Regions from separate parts of the Homo sapiens genome. Here regions 2, 3 and 4 are each linked to region 1. Evidence: fine-mapped expression QTL. A gene starts in region 1. Each other region holds a variant in brackets. All regions are shown on one strand. Distances are from middle to middle. Region 1 holds the start of VENTX (VENT homeobox). Region 2 overlaps CFAP46 (cilia and flagella associated protein 46). Region 3 overlaps KNDC1 (kinase non-catalytic C-lobe domain containing 1). Region 4 overlaps KNDC1 (kinase non-catalytic C-lobe domain containing 1).

Region 1 (5,141 bases):
GCAGGGGCACGATCTCGGCTCACTGCAACCTCCATCTCCCAGGTTCAAGAGATTCTCCTGCCTCAGCCTCCTGAGTAGCTGGCCTCCCCCTCAGGTGGTCCCAGAGTGCTCGGAGGAGGCTCGGGCGAGTCGCGACGGGGCCGGCAGCACGCGCTGGGCCCGGTGTCTGTCCTCAGGCCCTGGACTCGGGGGGAGCGCGTTTCGGGGACTAGCTGGACTCCGGGCTGTGCGTGGGGGCGGTGCTGTCGGCCTGGGAGTGACGCGGGACTTCCTGCCCAGCGCAACCCGGCCTGGCCCCCGAGGGTGGGGGACAGGGCGACGCCCGCGGGGACCACGCTCTGGGGCGTGCGGGGCGCAATTCACGGGGCTGGGCTGCCCCAGGGGCTGGGAGGAAGGAGGCAGGGGGGCGCCCAAGTCTCCTACCCATGGCAGCGCATCAGGGCGCGTCCCAGAGCCGGGGGTGGACGGAGGCTTGGAGGCGGAGGCTTTGGGGACCCCCAAGCCTGGGCTAGAGCAGCCTCGGCGGGCTCTAGAGGGAGGGTGGAGGGAGGGGCCCGGGCTGCAGGAGGCGGGGAGGCCTGAGCCACGGTGGTGGGGCCGCTGGGCAGGAGAGAGGGGCTGCCTGACCCTGCCGTGTGAAGGTGAGGTTGTCTTCGGGCTTGGGGGGATCGGAGGGGGCGGTTCAGGTGGAGGTGGTGGCGGGGGGCTGGGAAACCGGCAGGAGGGGCTCTATGTAGAGCTGGGGGTGGGGGTGCTGAACCACGTACAGAAGGGGGCTGAGACACCGGGGCCCTGGGCCCCGGAAATTAGAAATGGAGAAATGGAAGGCTGGGTGCTGGCGTTTCGGAAATGCATGCTCGTGGTGTTCCTCTTTATGTAAGGGAAGCTTCTGGGCCTTTTCCCTGCCTGTCGAACGTTCTGTATGTTTTTGCGGGATGTGTGAGGTGTGCTGTCTTGCTCCACTTTGAGGCACCGCCCCCACTGCGGGAGTGCTGGGGACCTGCCCCATGGGGCATCCTCGGGGCCAGCCCTGTGGCCACAGGCATCTGGGCCCTCGCTGCCCCTGGCCGGGACACACTGCCGGTCCTGTGCAGTGGCTCAAAGCCCCTCTACCGGGGGTGACCCGGTCTCTCCGGAGATGAAGTGCAGCGGGGGTCTAGGCCGGCTTCCTGGCCCCCCACCCCTCCTGGCTTTACCCCCGAGGCCACGTCCAAAGCCCCCAGCGCCCCACCCCCGCCAGCCTCCCCCTTGAGGGCCCAGTGACCTAACTGGGCCGGCAGGGTCCGAGGAAGACCAGGGTCAGCGGCGGCACGGTCCGTTCCGCGACCCCTCTCCTGTGACCCCAGGTAGGCCGCCGATCGGTTCCCGGCTGAGGTCCCGCCCCAGCGCCCGCCTCCCGGGCTCCAACCTCTTTGCTCAGCCCGGGAGGCTCGGCTGGCTGGGGCGGGCGTAACCGTGGGGCGAGGCCCGCCGGTCTTTCTGATTTCCGCGGGCGGCGTGGGCGCTGAGGCAGCCGCGGTCAGGACCTGGCCGGGAGTCGGGGCTGCTCCGTGGACCCCGCGTCTGCGCCGAAACCCCGCATGGCTTCGGGGGCCGGACCTGCGCCTCCGCCTAACTCCGGCCGCCGGAGACGCCGTGCGGACCCCAAGCCAGTGCGCGGAAGACACCGTCCTACCCTCGGCATGGCTGCCTCCCACCCGGTCACGTCGGTCCCCGCGCCCCACGCCGACGCGCAGGCGACCCGGGGACGCGGAGACGCAGACAGCTCGGGACTCAGGTTCGTGGGAGCAGCGGCCGCGCGTGGCTATGACCGTCCCGGGGGCCCGTGCTCAGGGCGTCCCCGTGAGGTTTGGGCGCCACAGTCACCGGCGGCTCTGCCCGCGCCCTGGCCACAGTGGGGACAGCCTGGCTTGGCGGGGACGCACCAGTCCCGCCGCCGACGCGGAGTTCCTACCCCGCCGTGCGAGGCAGTGGCTCCGGCCCTTCCAGCTCGGGATGGAGTCAGGGAGCCGCCCGCGCCCGAATGCAGAGGCTCCTGCGATGGCCCCGGAGTGAGTCCCCCAGAGGAGCCGGATTAGGGCTGGAGGCGGCCGAGTCCCCCGAGAGGCCCCTCCCGACATTCCCGCCCCCGCGCGCCGCTCCCCGGGTCCTCCGCGTCTCTTTCCCGGGAAAGCCTCCCTCGGTTCCTGCGCGGCCGCACAGCCTGGACGCAGCGCACGCGGGCACCGGCCTGACTCTCCCACCCCGAAGCCTGCTCCCAACCTAAGTCCGCCCTGACTCTCCCAGCCTGAAGCCTGCTCGCCCTCGGGTGTCCGGGCTGGGCACAGGCGCCAGCGTCCCCCTGGAGAGGAGAGGTCGCCCGGCACCTCCCAGGACAGGCCCAAGTGGGAGTGGGACCCTCCTACCTTCCTGCAGCCTCGGCCCGCGGGGTGGGGGGTTGGGAGAGATGAAAGGAGGTGACCGATCCCGAACCATCGCCTCTCCATTAACCAGGGCCCGCAGCCCCGCCCCTCCCCCAGACATCGAGGAGCCGGGGAGGTGTGAACGGCCTCCTTTGTGCCTCTGAATCGAAGGCAATTAGGCGCTGCTTATCTGGGCATTAGCCGTGTATGCAAACCGGGCTCCCGCCCCCTCCTCCTGGGCTTATAAACGCCGCCGCCTGGCGAGGCCCGAGGTGGATCCTGCGCCTGGCCAGCCCCGCCTGGCCTTCCCTCCGGCCCACCTGGCCGCCATGCGCCTCTCCTCCTCCCCACCTCGTGGCCCGCAGCAGCTCTCCAGCTTTGGCTCCGTGGACTGGCTCTCCCAGAGCAGCTGCTCAGGGCCGACCCACACCCCCAGGCCTGCCGACTTCTCCCTGGGGAGCCTCCCTGGCCCAGGCCAGACATCCGGCGCCCGGGAGCCCCCTCAGGCCGTCAGCATCAAGGAGGCCGCCGGGTCCTCAAATCTGCCTGCGCCGGAGAGGACCATGGCCGGTAGGTCCGGGTGGGGGGGGTCCCTTCCTTCCCAGGTGGAGATGGGAGTGGGGGAGAGGCCAGGAGCCCGGCGGCTGCACTCCCCGCGGTGCCCTGCCCACTAGGTCAGGGCCGGGGGCGTTTCCATGAGGGCCGGCGGAGGCCTTGCCGGCGCCCTCACTGGAGCGCAGCTTCCCTCGGAACCAAAGCCTTGACGGGGATTTCCTCTCCTTGAGCCCCCGGTGGGCTCCTCTGCCTCCTTTTGTCACCCCGTTCCTCAGCTGTGTCTTCGTCCCCCACCCCGGCCTGGTGCCGAGGGACCGTCCAAGGGGTCCCCGTCCGCACCTCCCTGCCCTGATTCCGGGCGCTCACTGAAAGTCTCGATGATTTGCCAAGCCCCCCGCCCCCGCCCCCCAGCACAGCCGGTGCCTGCTCAGCGTCTAGGCTCAAGCCCATTCCGGGTCACCTGGAGCACAGCTGTCTTTAAAGAGCCTGCAGGTTCGCTGCAGGGGTGGCGGTGACCCCGATGCCTGCAGAAACTCTGAAGTTCCCTCTGTGGCCGCCCAGATGCTCTGTTGTCTGCTGAGAACAAAGGTTCTCTGCGTTTGTGTTTTAGTCTTTGTGACATCATCACCACTTTTAGGTTTAAGGTAGTACTTGGTCAAAAGTGGGGTTGACATCATCTACAAGTTTTCATTTTTAAAAATTTGACTGATCCTTATGGAGTGACTTTGTACTTAAGGGAAATGAAAATTTAAATGTATTCTCCCCAGCTAGCTATCCTGCCCCACCCCAAAAAAGCCAGCCATCCCTGTCCCGCAACCCCCTTTCTGATGCCAGTCCTACAGCCCTCCCTGCCAGAAGGCATTTGCTTTTTGGGTCTACCATGTGCTTTCAGGCTAACGTTAAGACAGATTTTGTAAAATACGCTTCCTTCCGCAGAAACTCCAGCGAGCATTTTGGTCAGACTTGCATTTAATGTCGAGCTCGATTGGCCACGTTGGCCTTTCCTGGGACCCAGACCCAGCTCCACAGACCACCTCGTGGGGCCGTTTGGTGCCAGCCCCCATTCCTTAACTTAGAAATTAGGAAACAGACTTGACCACAGTGGGCCTGGGGATTAACTGAGTTGGCCTCCGCTGGCTGAGGAGACGGAGCCCGGGACAGGGATGGGTGCCCCTGGGTGGGTCGCCAGGCCTTTGCATATAATGGATTCTTACCTTACCGGCCTGGAAGGCTGTGGGAAGGGCATCCTGGGAACCGGCTTCTGGAAGGGAAGTGTGGGATGGGGCGGAACTGAGTGGACTGAGCGGAGGGCAGGCCCAAGCTGCTGTTAACATTCCCTCCCCTCTTGAGCCCCCTCTCTGAGCCCCCTTTCCGCATGTGACCTGGGAGGCGGCGGGGGTGCTGCTGGTCACTGTCAGGTGAGAAGATCTGCCCTGCCCAGCCCCCAGCATGGCTGTCTTCACCTGTTACCCGTGGGCACGAGCTTGCCCCATGGGGTGGCATGTTGAGCCAAATGCCCTTACCCTCTATGTCAGGGTTGAGTAAGGAGCCAAATACCTTGCGGGCCCCCCGTGTCCGCACAGCCTTCACCATGGAGCAGGTCCGCACCTTGGAGGGCGTCTTCCAGCACCACCAGTACCTGAGCCCTCTGGAGCGGAAGAGGCTGGCCAGGGAGATGCAGCTCTCAGAGGTCCAGGTGAGGTGGGCCGGGCAGGCTGGGGTGGGCAGGGGTGGGCAAGGGTGGGCTGGTGGCCTAGTCTCACCCCTGTTCTGATCTTGCTTTTCCTACAGATAAAAACCTGGTTTCAGAATCGCCGCATGAAACACAAACGGCAAATGCAGGACCCCCAGCTGCACAGCCCCTTCTCGGGGTCTCTCCATGCGCCCCCAGCTTTCTACTCAACGTCTTCTGGCCTTGCCAATGGCCTGCAGCTGCTGTGCCCTTGGGCACCCCTGTCCGGGCCCCAGGCTCTGATGCTGCCCCCTGGCTCCTTCTGGGGTCTCTGCCAAGTGGCACAAGAGGCCCTGGCATCTGCGGGAGCTTCCTGCTGCGGGCAGCCTCTGGCGTCCCACCCCCCTACCCCAGGCCGGCCTTCGCTGGGACCAGCCCTGTCCACGGGGCCCCGGGGCCTGTGTGCTATGCCACAGACGGGGGATGCATTTTGAGGAGGCACCTCTGACTCC
Region 2 (5,141 bases), 320 kb before region 1:
CCAAATAGCATTTTGAGCTTTGCAAGCTCCATATAGTCTTCACTGTATATTTTTTCTATTTTGTTTTACAAATTTAAAAGTGTCAAAGCCACTCTCAGCTCACAGGCTGCAAACGGCTTGAGCCCTAATTTTCAGACCCTCCTCTGTCTGTGAGCAGGCCCACCAGGAGTGCAGAGCTCTGCCCAGCCTTGGGCCTGGGTCCTGGAAAGGCATCTGGAGCCCCTGCCTGAAATGACGGGGCTGTGAGGGCTGGAGGCCCGGGGTGGGCCTGGGCCCGGTGGCTCCTCACAGAGCCCGGAGCTGCTGCAGGAGAGGGATCCCAAGAGGCCAAGACAAAGGCCACCTGCAGCCGTCATCGTCATTGCTGCTGCCTGACCACCTCTTCCCTCCAAAGAGCTCGGCCGGGTGGCTCCAGGCGTGCATGGCAAGCAGGGACAGCTGGCTTTCCTTCTGCCCCAAGGGACCGGCGAGGGCGGGGCGCCGTGCCCAGCTTCTGCCCCGAGGGACCGGTGAGGGCGGGGCGCCGTGCCCAGCTTCTGCCCCGAGGGACCGGCGAGGGCGGGGTGCCGTGCCCAGCTTCTGATGCATGGATAGTCGGGGACACCCGAGCTTACCACGTTCGTGTGCTTGACGCAGCTGCATTGCAGGGATAAGTTCCCGTGTCCTATGCACGGCGAGCGACTATAGTTTACAGGGATGCTGGAAGGGGGACATCGAACATTCCCAACATGGAGAAACAACGCACGTCCAGCGTGACGGATTCGCTGATTACCCAGATCTGATCACCACGTTACACAGATCAAAACGTCACTATGCACCCCAAAAACGGTAAAATTCTTGTCAATTAAAAAAATAAGTTAAAAATATTTAATTTTATATTAAAAATAGGTAAAAACCATCATTGCTGGTACAAGCACTCCAATTTCAATTCTTTCTGAACTTGGAACCTCACGTCAGCAAATCCTGTGAGATGTTCTGTACAAACTAAATTTTCTTATTGACACACAAGGCGTTTTCGAGGCCAAGGCAGTCCTCGATAGCTTTTCCCACAATAGGAGGGAGAGCACAGCTTTTCCTCTGAGCAAATACAGAAGCTGCTCCTTCTATTTTCTGCCACGAAGACCACCTCCCTAGCAGCTGCCTTTCACGCATCATCAGAGGGCCTGACGAGGGTGAGCAAGAGGGACACTACAGGACGCTGGAAAAGACACTCCTGAACGTTTCCTCGTAGTAACAGCAAACTACGCCTGGGGTCTTGCGAGGAACGACGGCTAAAAACAGGAGAGGCCACGTCACCCCATTTTCTCTTTCATGGTCTCAGTCATTTACGTGACGATGGACACGTCCCCCACGCAAGAAGCCGGTGTCCTTACGAATGCAAAGGGTGTCCCTCCCCACGCCAGCCTGAGTGCAGGGGACACTCTGACCCACGGCCCCGGGCGGTGCTCAAGGCCACTGTCGCCTCTGCCCACCTGTATGTGATCCACTCAGCATTCACCTCCGGGGGCTCAGGCACGTAGCCAGCTGGGTGCTGGCTCAGGTCTTCGGGGGGGATGGCCCGGTCATTCAGCTCTACACCTTCTGACCGCAGCAAATGAACCGTGGCCTGCAAAACACACATGCGGTGGGAGGGGTCATGGGCGGAGCACGGGCCCAGCACCAGATAGGAAACACACACGCCCTTCCCTCAGCTCTGATTTGAAAATGCCAAGCACAGGCTGTGAGACCCGTTTGCTGTGCCCTTTGCAAGCTGGGCCTGCCCCAATAGCCACTCCAGGGACTAAAGCCAGCTCCTCACAGACTCTCTCCACCCATTAGCACAAGGGTCAGGGAAGAGAAGGTCCTTCCAGAGCACCGCACACCCCAGCAGCCCCGAAGGACCAACAGTGGCTTCCCGGTATCAGCAGACACCGGCCAGCATTTGCACCTCCCCTACGTAATCATTACGTTTTAAATGTTTGAGGGGAAAGGTCTGCGCTGGCCT[C/G]CGGGGCGTGGATGACCATGTGGCACAGCCCCGTGGCCGCCGCTGGCTCTGGTTCTGCCATGTGGCCTCCGGCTCCCTGAGCAGAGAGTTCTGTGCCGCTTCTCACCCTGACCCCAGCTGAGGGCATGGGCCTGGCACCTGGGAGCCACTCAGCAGACATACTGCCTAAATCGGCAGGTGCCCTGTCCTCCAGGGCTGATGGCCACGCACCCACTGAGAAAGTCCACAGAAACCTAACCGAGAGTGGCTCTGGGAACTCTGAAGTCACACAATGTCACAAGGGCCACACTTGTGTTGGTGCAGCGCGGTGGCTGCGAGCTCGGACCCGAGGTCCCAGGGCTGGGTTTGGATCCCACTCCGCCATTTCTACCTGCTGACTTTGGGCAGGGCGAGCCCGGGAGTCTCTGAGCCTGCGTGGGAGGAACAGGCCTGGCGGCCCCATCACAGGGACCCTGGACATCACGCCACATTCAATGCGCTTCTGCAGCAAATGCCGAGGTACCATCTCCCCACCGAGTGGCGGTTGCCGTGTGTCATCCACACAACTGCAGATTCACCACTCAGAAATGATTCCCAAGAGAAATTTACACCCATGCACACTTTGGTTTATATTTTTCTCCTAGAAAATCTCCCAAGAATCCAGGAAGTTTTCCCTCCCTCATATTCATTTTGTTTGAAGCACAGAAGGTTCTATGACAATAAATATCTGCAGTGGGTTAACAGGCCACGTGGACACCAACACCTGCCCCACAGCAGGTTGTGTGGATGCAGGAAAGCAACCCTCTGACGCTGTGGTGCAGGGACACACCTCAGCATTGATAAGCCCCAGTTCCAGGATGCACCTCAGCACCGATGAACCCCCCTCTCCACGACGCACCTCAGCACCGATGAACCCCCCTCTCCACGACGCACCTCAGCACCGATGAACCCCCCTCTCCACGACGCACCTCAGCACCGATGAACCCCCCTCTCCACGACGCACCTCAGCACCGATGAACCCCCCTCTCCACGACGCACCTCAGCACCGATGAACCCCCCTCTCCACGACGCACCTCAGCACCGATGAACCCCCCTCTCCACGACGCACCTCAGCACCGATGAACCCCCCTCTCCACGACGCACCTCAGCACCGATGAACCCCCCTCTCCACGACGCACCTCAGCACCGATGAACCCCCCTCTCCACGACGCACCTCAGCACCGATGAACCCCCCTCTCCACGACGCACCTCAGCACCGATGAACGCCCCTCTCCACGACGCACCTCAGCACCGATGAACCCCCCTCTCCACGACGCACCTCAGCACCGATGAACCCCCCTCTCCATGACGCACCTCAGCATGGATGAACCCCACCTCCGCGAACTTCCGCAGCAGGTCGGGGCACACCTGCCTCTGCAGGACGACCTCAGGCTGGCTCCAGGTGTCCTGCACCGAGCCGTCCCTACCTCGCTTCTTCTTCCCTGAGAGAAATGGCAGCAGGTAAGGATCATGTTTTTTTCTAGCAAATAAATAAAAACACAAGAATTCCTGAACCATCTTGGAGTGCCTGAGCCTCTCCCCAGCTCCGTGTAGGGTCCGCCAAGGTGGGCGGGTAGGCGGGAGGTGGGCAGCTTGCCCAGGAAGAGGCTGGAGGAGCTCTCCGTGGGATGGCGGAGGTGGGTGGAGTGCTGGCTCCCAGCCAGGGCTTGCTCTTGGCCACATCCCTGCAGATGCTCTTGGCACCTGTGGCTCTCCCAACTCCTCCTGCATCCCCTGCCTTCTTGGGGGGTGCCCTCCCTGACTCCTGCAGGACTCCCAGACCCCCTGTGCCCGTTCTGTCACCTCCCTCGTCCCTCCGGGTCCTGATTGTCCCTGAGACAGGAGCCTCTCCAGGGCCGGGTGCTGATTGATGAGCCTGCCCCACCCATGTCCCGCTCCACGCTGGGCCTGTGGCCACTGCCCTCTGCCTGCAGGTGCCCCGCATGGGCATCTGCTCACTGGCTGTGGTGGCCCCTGCCTGAGCCTCCGAGGCCCCCAGTGACTGAAGATGGAGTGTGACGACGGTGCTCGTGGCTCGGCCGACACAGCCAGATGTGGCCGCCGCCCCATGATTGGCGGTCCTGATAATTAGTGGGAACTGCTACCATTGTGACTTAGCAATACGCTTTCTCATGCGAAGGCCCCATGGGTTGTCATTGCACGAACCACAACCCTTCCCACACCCAGAGGGCGGCCGTGGCCAGGCTGGGACACACTCGTGAGGGCGGGTACGAACCTCGCCGCAGCCTCAACTTCTTCACCTTGACGTTGTCATACAGGAGGCAGAAGCGGCTCGCCGTCCGACAGACGTCCCACACGCCTTGTTTCCGGGCCACTTTGGCCAGCTCTGCCCAAATCTGTATCCTGCTCACCGAGAACCCAAACGAGTGAAAGGTGAGTAGACAAGTGTGGTTGCTGAAGTTAGAAAACACCTGGGCTGGCTGCCTGAGAAAAGGCCACTGTGGCTCTGCAGTTTCAAGGTGGCAAGGAGCCCGGCACTCGCGCTGGGTACGGCCTGGCGGGTGCATGTCCCAGGGTCGGGCGCAGCTCTCCGCTCTCCCTGCCAGCCAGCTGTGCGCGGCACCTCCCTTCCCTGTGGTGAGAAGAAAGGCCACACAATCCACTCCCCGGGGGAGTGCACGGGACAGGCCTCCCGGGGATGGTACCGACCGCAGGGTCGGTACCAAAAATCAGCCTGCTCTGGTCACAGGCGCTGCGTGTCCTCCGAGTGACAGCAGTGACAGGCGGGACAGGGCAGCCGCACACCTCATAGGCCGTGGCTGTCATCACAGGCTGGGGGGTCCCGTCTGTGGCGGGACTCCCAGGCAGGGACCTCGTCCCACCATCCTGGAGCAGGTGGCCTGGCGAGTCCCCAGACGGCCACATGCAGGGTCAGCTCAGCCGCCACAGACACTGGCCCTCGGGCTGAGCGACCCCCGGGCTGAGCTGTGCGTGGCGCTCTGGCCTTTTCCTCACTCACCTCTCCTTGTCGTTTTCGTTGCCCAGGCGCCGCAGGTGCCCGGCAGCTTTGTCCACGCTGACGGTGTGGTGCCACGCCTTCGCACAGAGGTAGGTGAACCGGCCCCTGTTCTTCCCGGTGGAGACTGAGGGCGGAAATGCAAAGGCAGGTGTTGCAGCT
Region 3 (5,141 bases), 35 kb before region 1:
GCTCTGCTGGGCGGCTCCTCTGTGCTCTCTGCAATGCGGGGGGCGCCCCAGGGTCCCAGCAGCCTCAGACTGCACTGCTCCAGCGGGGCTGCCTTTGCCCCGGGGGTGCCCAGCCAAAGGCCGCCCTCTCCTGGGGGTGCCCAGCCAAAGGCCGCCCTCTCCTGGGGGTGCCCAGCCAAAGGCCGTCCTCTCCTGGGGGTGCCCAGCCAAAGGCCGTCCTCTTCTGGGGGCGAGCAGGAGCCCAGGACCTTGGAGGTGGGGGGTCCTCTGTCACCGGCCACTGGGACAGTGGGAGCCGCCGGGAGCCAGGTGGGATCCGCTCTCCAAGCAGAGGGGGGCCTGTGAGCCGGGGCTTTGGTGACAAGGCAGAAGTGGGCTTGTTAGCCCCAGGATCCCAGGGCACATGAGTGCCAGGCTGGGGACGTCCCAGCGTCCAGCCAGCAGGCTTGGTGTTAGGGACAAGGTGGGGGTGGTGGTCACCCTCAGGCTGTCCGTAGTCGTGGCCAGGCTTGGTGACGGGCCCAGTTCCTATCAAGTCGGAGACCAGGCGGGCAGGCTGGGGCATGAGGCCCGTGCACTCCTGGATGGCAGGAAAGCCCTGCACAGGGGAAGCTCCCGCAGGGACAGAGCTGGGGACCACTTTTTAAATTCCAGAAGAAAAGAGGAGAGCGTGAGGGGGCAGAGGGACACAGTCCTGATAGCAGAGCCAGCGAGGACAGGGCCCGGCCCCACCCCGGGGCGAGTACGAGTTTGGAAGCAGTGAGGGCGCAGAGTGGGGCTCCATCTGGGGAGAGGCCTCTCTCTGTCACCCGGCCCCGTGCGGCAGTTCAGGGTCCCAGCATCTCCCCTGCACTGGGAGGCGGCAGCCGTGCCCGGGGGGCGCCCGTGGTGGGCGGGTGCAAGAGAGAAGGGCGTCGGGTGTGCAAGCACCACCGGCCTCCCATTAACAGCCTGCCCGGGCTCCGCCCACAGGAGCCACTGTCCACGTAACCTGCGTCTCTTTCTTTCAAGGAAAAGAGAAGCCAGCCATGGCCAGGACCAGCAGCAGGGCCCCCTGCTCACCCACCTCGGTGTCGGATGTGGACTCGGACGCACTGTCACGGGGAAACTTCGAGGTGGGGTTTCGGCCTCAGAGGTCCGTAAAAGCCGAGAGAGCGCAGCAGCCTGAGGCTGGCGAGGACAGACGGCCAGCTGGCGGGGCCTCAGACGTGGAGGCAGTGACCCGACTGGCCAGGTCCAAAGGGGTCGGCCCAGCCTTGTCCCCCGGCCCAGCCGGATTCCAGAGCTGCAGCCCCGGCTGGTGCAGCGCCTTCTACGAGGCCGACTGCTTCGGGGCCGACGTCCACAACTACGTGAAGGACCTGGGGCGGCAGCAGGCGGACGGGGCCCTGCCCGACGCCCAGAGCCCGGTGAGTCCCAGGCCTTGGCACTGCCGGGTGGGGCAGGGCGTCTCCTTCCAGCAGAGCTTCCTGGTCACTGCAGGTGACAGATGGCACCGTGTGCCCAGAGCCCCCAACAGGGTGACACTGGTCCTGGTGCCCCCACCCCGTGGCTGTCAAGATGGTCAGGGCCCCCTCCCTGGGCTGAGCTCCACGTCTAGGGACAGGCTCGTCTGCACTGGTGCTCCTGGTGGCTCCACGTCTGAGGACAGGGAAGGGCTTTTCTCTCATGGTCGCCCGGGCGATGGGTTCACAGGAGGCCCCTCCATGCTCGTGACCAGGTTGCGTTCGGTCGTGTTTTCCGTGGGGCAGGCACAGCCTCCGGGCCCTTGGGCAGCCTCGCTCTGCAGTGAAAGAAAACACCAAAAACGCCTGCCCAGCAAGTCTAGACTGGGCCTGGTCGCTGCAGCCTGGTCCGGGCTTTCTGGCCAGCAGTGCCATCCTGGGTCAGGAGCAGCTGCAACTCCTCCCTGGCCAGCAGGGAGAGGAGGTCTTAGACCGGGGAGTCCTGGGTGCAGGAGAGGCCTGCAGAGCTCTGGACGCAAGGTGGGACCAGTGACCCACAGCCCCGACCTGGGCTGCATTCTCGAGAGCCCCGGGACTCCAGGGTGGATGACAGGAGGGGCCCAGTGGCCATCAGCTCCGGGAACCTCTCCTACCACCGTCTGCCTCGAGCTGAGCCACCGTGGGAAGCCTCCCCCAGCCTCTGGGCATCGGAGCCCTTCCTGGGGCTCCTCCTTGCTCCTCTCCTGCCGCCTCCTGGCCTGCACTTTATGACTCAGTCCAGAACATGACCCGGTGTCCCTTCAGGGCAGGTGAGGGGACAGGGGTTAAGCTCTGTGAAGCCTTCACTTCATTTCAGCTTCTGGGCCACGTGAAAGACCCGCATGGTGCTACAGCCTCTGCACCTGCATCTCGGACACCCCACACAGGGCCTGAGGGGGCTTCGAGGACGCAAAGGCCGCCCC[C/T]GGGGCTGGGGAGAGAAAAGGGCGGCCGGCACAGCAAACACCAAACGACCCGGCCCCCAAACGCAGGGAGTCCAGCAGGGAGCACTCAGCCCCCAAACTCACGGCGTCCAGCCGGGAGCACTCCGCCCCCAAACGCATGGCGTCCAGCGGGGAGCACTCGGCCCCCAAACTGGCAGAGTCCAGCGGGGAGCACTCCACCCCCAAACGCACGGCGTCCAGCGGGGAGCACTCGGCCCCCAAACGCACGGCGTCCAGCGGGGAGCACTCGGCCCCCAAACGCACAGAGTCCAGCGGGGAGCACTCGGCCCCCAAACGCACGGCGTCCAGTGGGGAGCACTCGGCCCCCAAACGCACAGAGTCCAGCGGGGAGCACTCGGCCCCCAAACTCACGGCGTCCAGCGGGGAGCACTCGGCCCCCAAACTCATGGTGTCCAGCAGGGAGCACTCGGCCCCCAAACACACAGCGTCCGGCCCATGGCCACAGCCTCACGTTTCTCTTGGAGGAGCTACTGTGTCTCTTTCAAAACAGGAGGCTCAGAAACACAGCAAGGGCAAAAACCACCTGGAGACAGACTTTCACATCCGCAGCCCAAAACGCACACGGTGCAGCGAGGGCCGTTCTCTGGGGCGGCTGGAGCAGCCGGTGGGCATTTCCTCCCTTCAGCGCTGACCCCCACCTACTGGTGCCGGCCGTGTGTGCTGGGCTCAGCACTGCGGGTGCCCTGGGGCTGTGGAGCTGGCATCCGCGTCTCCTGCTGTTAAAACAAGCGTGGCTCCCAGAGTCAGCGTGGACAGCACTGGTGTGGGTTCCTCCCCCGTCTGTCTGCACCGGTGAAGCCTGGCCTCGTGTTTCCCTCCTCACTGCCCCACATGTGGTGTGGATTTTAGTTACCGTGGATTTATTAAAATCAGTCAAGACCGTCCTCCTCATGGAGTCCGCCTGTGGTTCCCGCGTGAGGAGCGCCCCCGACGGACATCGAGTCTGACTGTGAACGGAGGCCGTGGAGGTGCCGGCCAGAGAGGAGTCTGCGTGAGCTGCACTCCAGCCAGGCGGGCATCGGGCTCGCAGGCACCCGCCTCCAGGTTCCTGGATGCGTCAGGGTACACAGACCTTTCCCAGGAGATTTTCTCGACATCAGCACCTCTGCAAATGGATGGGGGTGAGAGGGCTGGATGGAGCCTGGCGCCGGTGACCTCCGGGGGCCGGACGAGGGCCCCATGGTGCAGGCCATGGGGGAACGTGGCCACCACCATCCTCAGAAGCCAGGACCAGGTGCCCCGGCAGCAGAACACAGCTCCATGGGGACACCTGCGTTTACCAACCTCAACCTGCCCAGCCCGGTAGGTCCTTCCTTGATGATGGAATGTTCTAGACGCTGTCCACCGGGTAGCCAACAGCCACGTGTGGCTACTGAGCTCTGGAAACATGGCCCACGTGACTGAGGACCTGATGTTTTAATTTCACTGCACTTTAGGCAGCCACGGCAGCCTGCAGCTCAGTGTGGGAGGCAGGGTCGCACTTGGCTGGGTGGCAGCGGGGTCCGGAGGGCTTGGGGAACCTGGCTTAGTGGCCGAGGTTCTGCAGAGGCCTGGTCTTTACGCAGCTGGGACACTGCCCACACTGCCGTAGCGGGGAGCCTGGCCCTCCGTGGCACCGCCACGGCCGCTGCTGAACCCGTGCGTGGGAGAAGACAGCACAGGGACCCCGTCTCCATGGAACCACCAGATAGAGCGGATTCAAGTAGTTAAATAGAAATGTCGCCTGCATTTTTTTATTTTGCAAAAAACATTCAAAAATAAACCCTGTCAATAGCAGAGTCACTGGCGGCTGACAAGGCGAGGGGGTGGCTGTGTGGATCTGAGCCAACCGCACTTCACAAAAGGAAGCCTGGTGGACCGGCTCGCGGATGAGCCCCTCGGGGCGGTCGCTTCGGGCCCTGGGCACGTGAACCCCTCACAGGAGGCTGCGGGCCGAGGGCTGCCGCGCCTCTCACCTCTGCCCCCAGCCAGGTGCCCCTGCCCCGTGGCACCTCACAGTCCCCCTGAAGACCTGCTGCTCAAGGCCCAGCTCCCATGGACCCCCAAGACTTCCCAGACCCCTCACCCCAGAACCACCACCCTCCTCACCCCCAGAATCACCACCCTCCTCAGTACTGGGCCAAGCCCCACGGGTGCAGGAGGAGGCTGTATCTGCCCCTGTACCCCTAGAGGGAAGGGCCGTCTCTGGGGTCACTGCCCTGGCAGCCCATCCTCAGGGCGCCCCTCCTCCAGCCTCTACGCCCGTGTGCCTGTCCCGTAGGACAGAAGGAGTGCTCAGACGAGGGCTGCCCGGCCAGGCGTGGGAGGCATCCTGGGACAACGCGGCGCCCTCTCCCTGAATGTAGAGTCCCGTCCAGGGAGGCGCTCAGCCCCAGCTGCTGTCTGTGCATGAAGCAGTGCCCGGCGGCCCTCGCCCCCAGCTCCTGTGATCAGGACCTGCCCGTCTGGCCTCAGTCCTGCTTCCCTCATGGCGACAGCCCTGGGGATGAGGTCCCCGGCTCCATCTCGCAGGCAGGAACTCAGACTCTGGGCAGGTTCCGGAGAATCACACCCGGGCGTGCACTCACATTTACACTCAACGCTCATGCTCTATGGAGCACCCAAGGGCTGGGGCAAACGCTGCGGCCGCCGCCCAGCAAACCACGATGGTCCAGCCAGTGGGTTCCCGGGAGGAGGGTTTTTGGGGGCCTCGTCT
Region 4 (5,141 bases), 24 kb before region 1:
CAGGCGGAGCCTCTGCGTCCTGCAGGCCTGGGTGGAGGACTGCTACGCTGTGGACTTCCCTCGGAACAGCGGGCTGCTGGGGAAGCTAGAGGACTTCATCTCCTCCAAGGTGACAGTGGCGCTGAGCTGGGCGGCCGCACCCGGGGCTCCCACAGTGGGAGGTGCCGCCCTCCTCCAGAAGGTGGCAGTGACCCCCCCACCACTGTGCTTCTGCCTAGATCCTACCCCTGGACGGCTCTGCCAAGCACCTGCTGGGCCTCCTGGAGGTGGGCATGGACCGGCGGGCCGAGGGCAACCCTCGCGGCACAGACCTGGAGAACCCCAGGGAGGCCGAGGAGGATGCCAGACCCTTCAACGCCCTCTGTAAGAGGCTCTCAGAGGACGGCATCTCCAGGAAGGTGGGGTCCTTTCTCAGGGGAGGTCCTCCCTGGACAGGCGGATGTGGGTCCCTGAGCCCAGCCTCAAAGACACAACTGGTGCATGCACACACATACACACAAGTGCAAATGGGCACAGCTGTATACATGCATACACATAGACGTGTGCACATACACTTGTGTGCACATACATACCTGTGCACATCACACACATCCACACGTGCACATATGCATGCACCTTCACACAATCCACACGTGCACATGCGTGCACACTCAATCCACACGTGCACACGCACGTGCACCTTCACACAGCCATACATGCACTCGTGTGCACCCTCACACATATCCACACCTACACGTGTGCACCCTCACACATATCCACACCTACACGTGTGCACCCTCACGCAATCCACACATGCACACACGTGCACCCGCACACGCATCCACACACACACGCATGCACCCTCACATCCACACGTGCACACTCACATACCCCCTCCATGTTCCCGGTCCCAGGCAGCCCTGCTGCGCTGGCACCTCCTGCACCATCCCGGGTGCTCAGGGGAGGAGGGTCCTGCTGTGACTCATTGACCCACGGGCCAGAGACTAAGGCAGAAGCCAGTGTGGGGAGAGAAATGCCCTCTCCATTAAACCTCAGCGTCCTGCCCGTGGGGCACCTGCTGAAACGACCAGGACAGGCATCCTTGTGCCAGCACAGCTGCGGGTGGGCAGGCTGCTCTCTGGCTCTGGCTGGGCCAGTCTGAGGAGTACTGGGCTTGCACCTGGCCTGGTCCTCACCCCCCAACCCTGCCTCCCTGGACCCCTGACCCAGAGGGGACACGGAGCTTAGGCCCCTCAGTGCCCGGCCTGCCCTGCAGAGCTTCCCCTGGAGGCTGCCCCGAGGCAACGGGCTGGTGCTGCCGCCACACAAGGAGCGCCCCTACACCATTGCTGCCGCCCTGCCCAAGCCCTGCTTCCTCGAGGACTTCTACGGCCCCTGCGCCAAGACCAGTGAGAAGGGGCCCTACTTCCTGACGGAGTACAGCACTCACCAGCTCTTCAGCCAGCTCACGCTGCTACAGCAGGTGAGGAGGGCGAGGATCTGCGCCCAGGTCACCTGCGAGTCGGGGCCCCAGAAACACTCCGCGCCCATAGGGCCCTCAGCGGCTGCTTCCAGAGGAACAGACGGGCAGAGAAGGGGCCAGCTGCCAGGTGCACAGGTTGGGGGTGGCTGCCAGGTGCACAGGTCCAGGCGGCTGCTGCCTCAATGGGAGGCCCCAGCAAAGCTGAGTCCTCCTCTCCAGACCACTGCCCGCTGGGCCTGGCCCTGCCTCTGCCCAGCACTCTGGCCTCACAGGCACTAGAGGATGCCCTGAGGGCCGCATGGGGCGCTGAGTCTCTCCCCCCAGCCCCTCCACCGGAGCTGGGCCAACCCGGTTCCTTGTGCCCCCACCCAGCTGCCAGGGCCCTGCCCAACTTCCTCTGCCGCCACCACAGCCAGCCCTCAGGTGGCCTCTTCCCAGGTCCCTGCCATCCCGGGAGCCCACATCATGTAGCAGGTGACAGCAGTGATGCCAATCTAGTGATCCACCTGCTGTCACGAGGGCTGCCCCGGACACCATGAGCCCCTGGGGGCCAAGCACATGGGGAGCCCTGCAGCCGACCCCTGTGGACTGTTAGATGGGTATTGAACCTGGGATTGCAGAGCTGGCCCCCCAGAAAACACCCACCCTCCCTGGGACCCTGCCTTGGACACAAGGCCCTAAGGGATGGAAGCCTGAACCTCTTGTTTCCATGTTCTGGGCAGGAGTTGTTTCAAAAGTGCCACCCGGTCCACTTCCTGAACTCACGGGCCCTGGGCGTCATGGACAAGAGCACTGCCATCCCCAAGTGAGCGTCCGGGACCCTCAGCTGGGAGCGGTGGTGGAGGGTCTCGGGGGCTTCCCGTAAGAGTCTTGTGGACGCTCCTGACCAGCAGGAGATGCCTGTGTCTCCAGAGACGCGAGAGAGTGGTGTCTGCCAGTTGGAGCGGCCTCGTGGCCCGACCCCAGCCCACCCTGCACCAGCAGCCCCAGGGCCGGGCAGGGCCACTGCACAAGTCCTGGGGGTGACAGGGACCATATTTCTCTTCCAGAGCCAGCTCTTCTGAGTCTCTTTCGGCCAAAACCTGCAGCTTATTTCTGCCCAATTACGTTCAGGACAAGTATCTGTTACAGCTTCTAAGAAACGCAGATGACGTCAGCACCTGGGTGGCTGCAGAGATTGTGACCAGCCACACCTCCAAGGTGGGCACCCTACAGTTCCGAGGCCAACACGGGGCGTGGGGCCCACCTACGCGGGGGTGGCAGCGCCTCCTATAAGGCCGTGGCCTGAACCCTCTCCCAATGCAGTGAACCCAACTCTGTGTCCCTTGGAACCACACCCGACCCAAGGCTGAGGGGAGCAGGGCACAGGCTTCACTACATCAGGAGGAGGGGGGTCAGC[C/T]GCCCTCCCAGCTCTCCCCCAGCACTGCCTGCCACATCCACGGCCACATCCACATCCACGGCCACTTCCACAGCCACGTCCACATCTGCAGCCAGAGATGGCTCCCCTCAGTGGTGGGTGATCCTTGGCTGTGGGCCGCCTGGAGACCCAGGACAAGCTGCACCCACCACTGCTACCACCCCCACCTGTGCTCACCACACACAGAGTCCCTCACGCACCACCCCCAGCACTGGGCTCCGCCACACACCCCACTCCACCCCAGGCCCCATCCCCTCTGTGCCTGAGCCTGGCCCCTGGGCTGGGGCTTGTGATGCCCAGCGTCCCACCCTGGGCTCCTCCTGGCCGAATGCTCATTGTGGGTTCTTAGTCTGTGGAACGGATCGGCTCCGTGGTCTGACCAAGGTCAAGGTCAAGCTCCAGCGCCGGGGCCCAGTCTCAGCCTCTTCTAGGTCCTGTGGGGCTTGGGCTGGACTGGGGGCTCCTCCCCTGACCTGCCCCACCTGCTGTCAGGCAGGGCACTGTGCAGCCCCTAGAGAGTCACTGCCTCGACCAGCTCATCCTTCACGGGGCTTACCTGCCCAGGAGGCATCAGGGTCCACAGCTTCTCAGGAGGCCAGAGTCCCCCAGCCCCAGGGGTCTGCACCTTCACCCAGCGGATGCCTTCACCCAGCAGACGGACAGCCTATTACAGAGGACTGTGATCTCCTCACACCTGAGCTCAGCTGGCGCTTGGCTGTCGTGGGCTGGGGTCACCAGGTCCCGCTCCAAGTAAGACTCAGGATTACAGGGCCCCTTCCCCCACAGCAGGCAGGTAGACGCCCACCCCCTCCTGGGCCGGAGCTCTCTGAAAGCAAACTTGAGCCCAAGGAACAGGACTCCCGGCCACGAACCCCATCACTGCCGTCCCTGCTGCTGTCCCAGAGTGGGCTGAAGGCTCTGGGGGAACCAGGAGCTGCTCGCAGTCCACCAAGGTGCAGTACCTCCCTGCCAGGCGGCAAAGCCACCTCCACGGTGGACAGAGCTTCCCTTCCTATTATTCCTTCACACCCCTCCAAGCCCGCAGGCAACCCCGGGCCGTAAACGAAGGCAGAGGCACCGCCTTCTCTCCTCCCTTGGGGAGAACTTTCCAACTTTGGGGATTTGTCGCCAGGGCACGCCAGCACGGGGCGTGGGAACAGGGAGCCTGGTTGCCTCTTTCCTCAGATCCATGGTTTTCACCATATCGTGAGGGACATGAAAATGCGATTTCCCTAAACCAGAGCCTTCACGCACGGCCCGTGTGGCCAGGCTTCATGAGGATGAGCACAAGGACAGGTGGCTGTCACCTGGCCAACCCACATCGTCCTGGGCGCACCCTCACCCCGAGCTGCCCCAGCGGGTGGAGGACTGCCCCTCCCAGCCTGAGACCCACCTCGAGCCTGCGGCGGCCCTGCCTGAGGGTCTCCGGGATGGCCGCTCGTCCTGGTCACGCACCCGTGTACAGGTCTGCAGGGTGGGCAAGAGTCGTGCAGGCTCACACCCAGGGCTGCTGGCACCCAGCGTGGCCGGGACAGAGCTCGGCACTGCTGCCACATCCCCGTTAGCAAAAGGGAGCTGCGGATCGCTCAGAACAGGCCCCTCACCTCCTCACGGGAGCGGACGGACCTCGCCGGAGACCCACTTCTAAAAGCACCACGCTCGTCCATCTAACAAGTGTTAGAGCCACGATGTCCTGACGTATTGTGTCTCAATGGCTGTGAGGTCGGAACAATCCAGGACACTGAGTTTCACATTTGTAAATTCAGGACCCCAGAAAATCATTAAAATACAAAATTCGAGCACAGAGGGCAGCAGTGATCAATAAAAATGCTCGGGGGTCAGTGGCTCCGTTCTGACGATGCCTGGAGTGAGGCGAGGTGGAGACACAAGGGCAGGAAGAAACGGCATAAAATTTCTCACCTGAAGAAAATGGGGGGTCGGTGGTTCCGTTCAGACAATGTCTTGGTGGCACCGTTTAGACGACGTCTGGAGGGAGACAAGGTGGAAACAGAAGCAGGAAGAAACAGCGTAAAATTTCTCACCTTAAGAAAACGCAGGCCGGTCGCAGTGGCTGATGCCTGTAACCCCAGCCCTTTGGGAGGCCGAGGAGGGCAGATCACTTGAGACCAGGAGTTGGGATCAGCTTGGACAACATATCGAAACCCCGTCTCTACTGAAAATATAAAAAATTGTCCAGGCTGGTGGCGCACACCTGGAGTCCCAGCTCCTCAGGAGGCTGAGGCGGGAGGATCACTGGAGCCC

What was found. PIP is the estimated chance that this variant, and not a neighbour inherited with it, causes the effect.
Region 2: its variant is the best candidate, but not a certain one, in a credible set for the expression of VENTX in whole blood (TOPMed, PIP 0.90).
Region 3: its variant is the best candidate, but not a certain one, in a credible set for the expression of VENTX in blood mononuclear cells (TOPMed, PIP 0.55).
Region 4: its variant is the best candidate, but not a certain one, in a credible set for the expression of VENTX in whole blood (TOPMed, PIP 0.69).

What each region holds. Positions count from the first base shown.
Region 1 is chr10:133,235,184-133,240,324 of GRCh38, forward strand. It overlaps VENTX (VENT homeobox), which reads left to right and starts at 2,672. Exons shown (of 3, transcript NM_014468.4): 1 at 2,672-2,972; 2 at 4,493-4,653; 3 at 4,749-5,141. The coding sequence starts at 2,732. The coding sequence ends at 5,123. RefSeq lists enhancers at 1-437, 1,647-2,250, 2,251-2,855, 2,856-3,459.
Region 2 is chr10:132,915,077-132,920,217 of GRCh38, forward strand. CFAP46 (cilia and flagella associated protein 46) reads right to left here. Exons shown (of 58, transcript NM_001200049.3): 14 at 4,983-5,106; 15 at 4,239-4,366; 16 at 3,317-3,444; 17 at 1,473-1,606. Among named protein-coding and RNA genes, the nearest start is that of CFAP46, 25 kb to the right of the region's middle. The variant C/G (reference allele first, on the strand shown) is at 1,985.
Region 3 is chr10:133,200,490-133,205,630 of GRCh38, forward strand. It overlaps KNDC1 (kinase non-catalytic C-lobe domain containing 1), which reads left to right. Exons shown (of 30, transcript NM_152643.8): 17 at 1,012-1,409. It overlaps LOC105378573 (a long non-coding RNA gene), which reads right to left. Exons shown (of 5, transcript XR_007062351.1): 4 at 1-1,783. Among named protein-coding and RNA genes, the nearest start is that of UTF1, 27 kb to the right of the region's middle. RefSeq lists an enhancer at 1-606. The variant C/T (reference allele first, on the strand shown) is at 2,408.
Region 4 is chr10:133,211,461-133,216,601 of GRCh38, forward strand. KNDC1 (kinase non-catalytic C-lobe domain containing 1) reads left to right here. Exons shown (of 30, transcript NM_152643.8): 22 at 1-109; 23 at 219-398; 24 at 1,256-1,462; 25 at 2,185-2,267; 26 at 2,512-2,662. It overlaps LOC105378573 (a long non-coding RNA gene), which reads right to left. Exons shown (of 5, transcript XR_007062351.1): 3 at 4,800-4,865. Among named protein-coding and RNA genes, the nearest start is that of UTF1, 16 kb to the right of the region's middle. The variant C/T (reference allele first, on the strand shown) is at 2,862.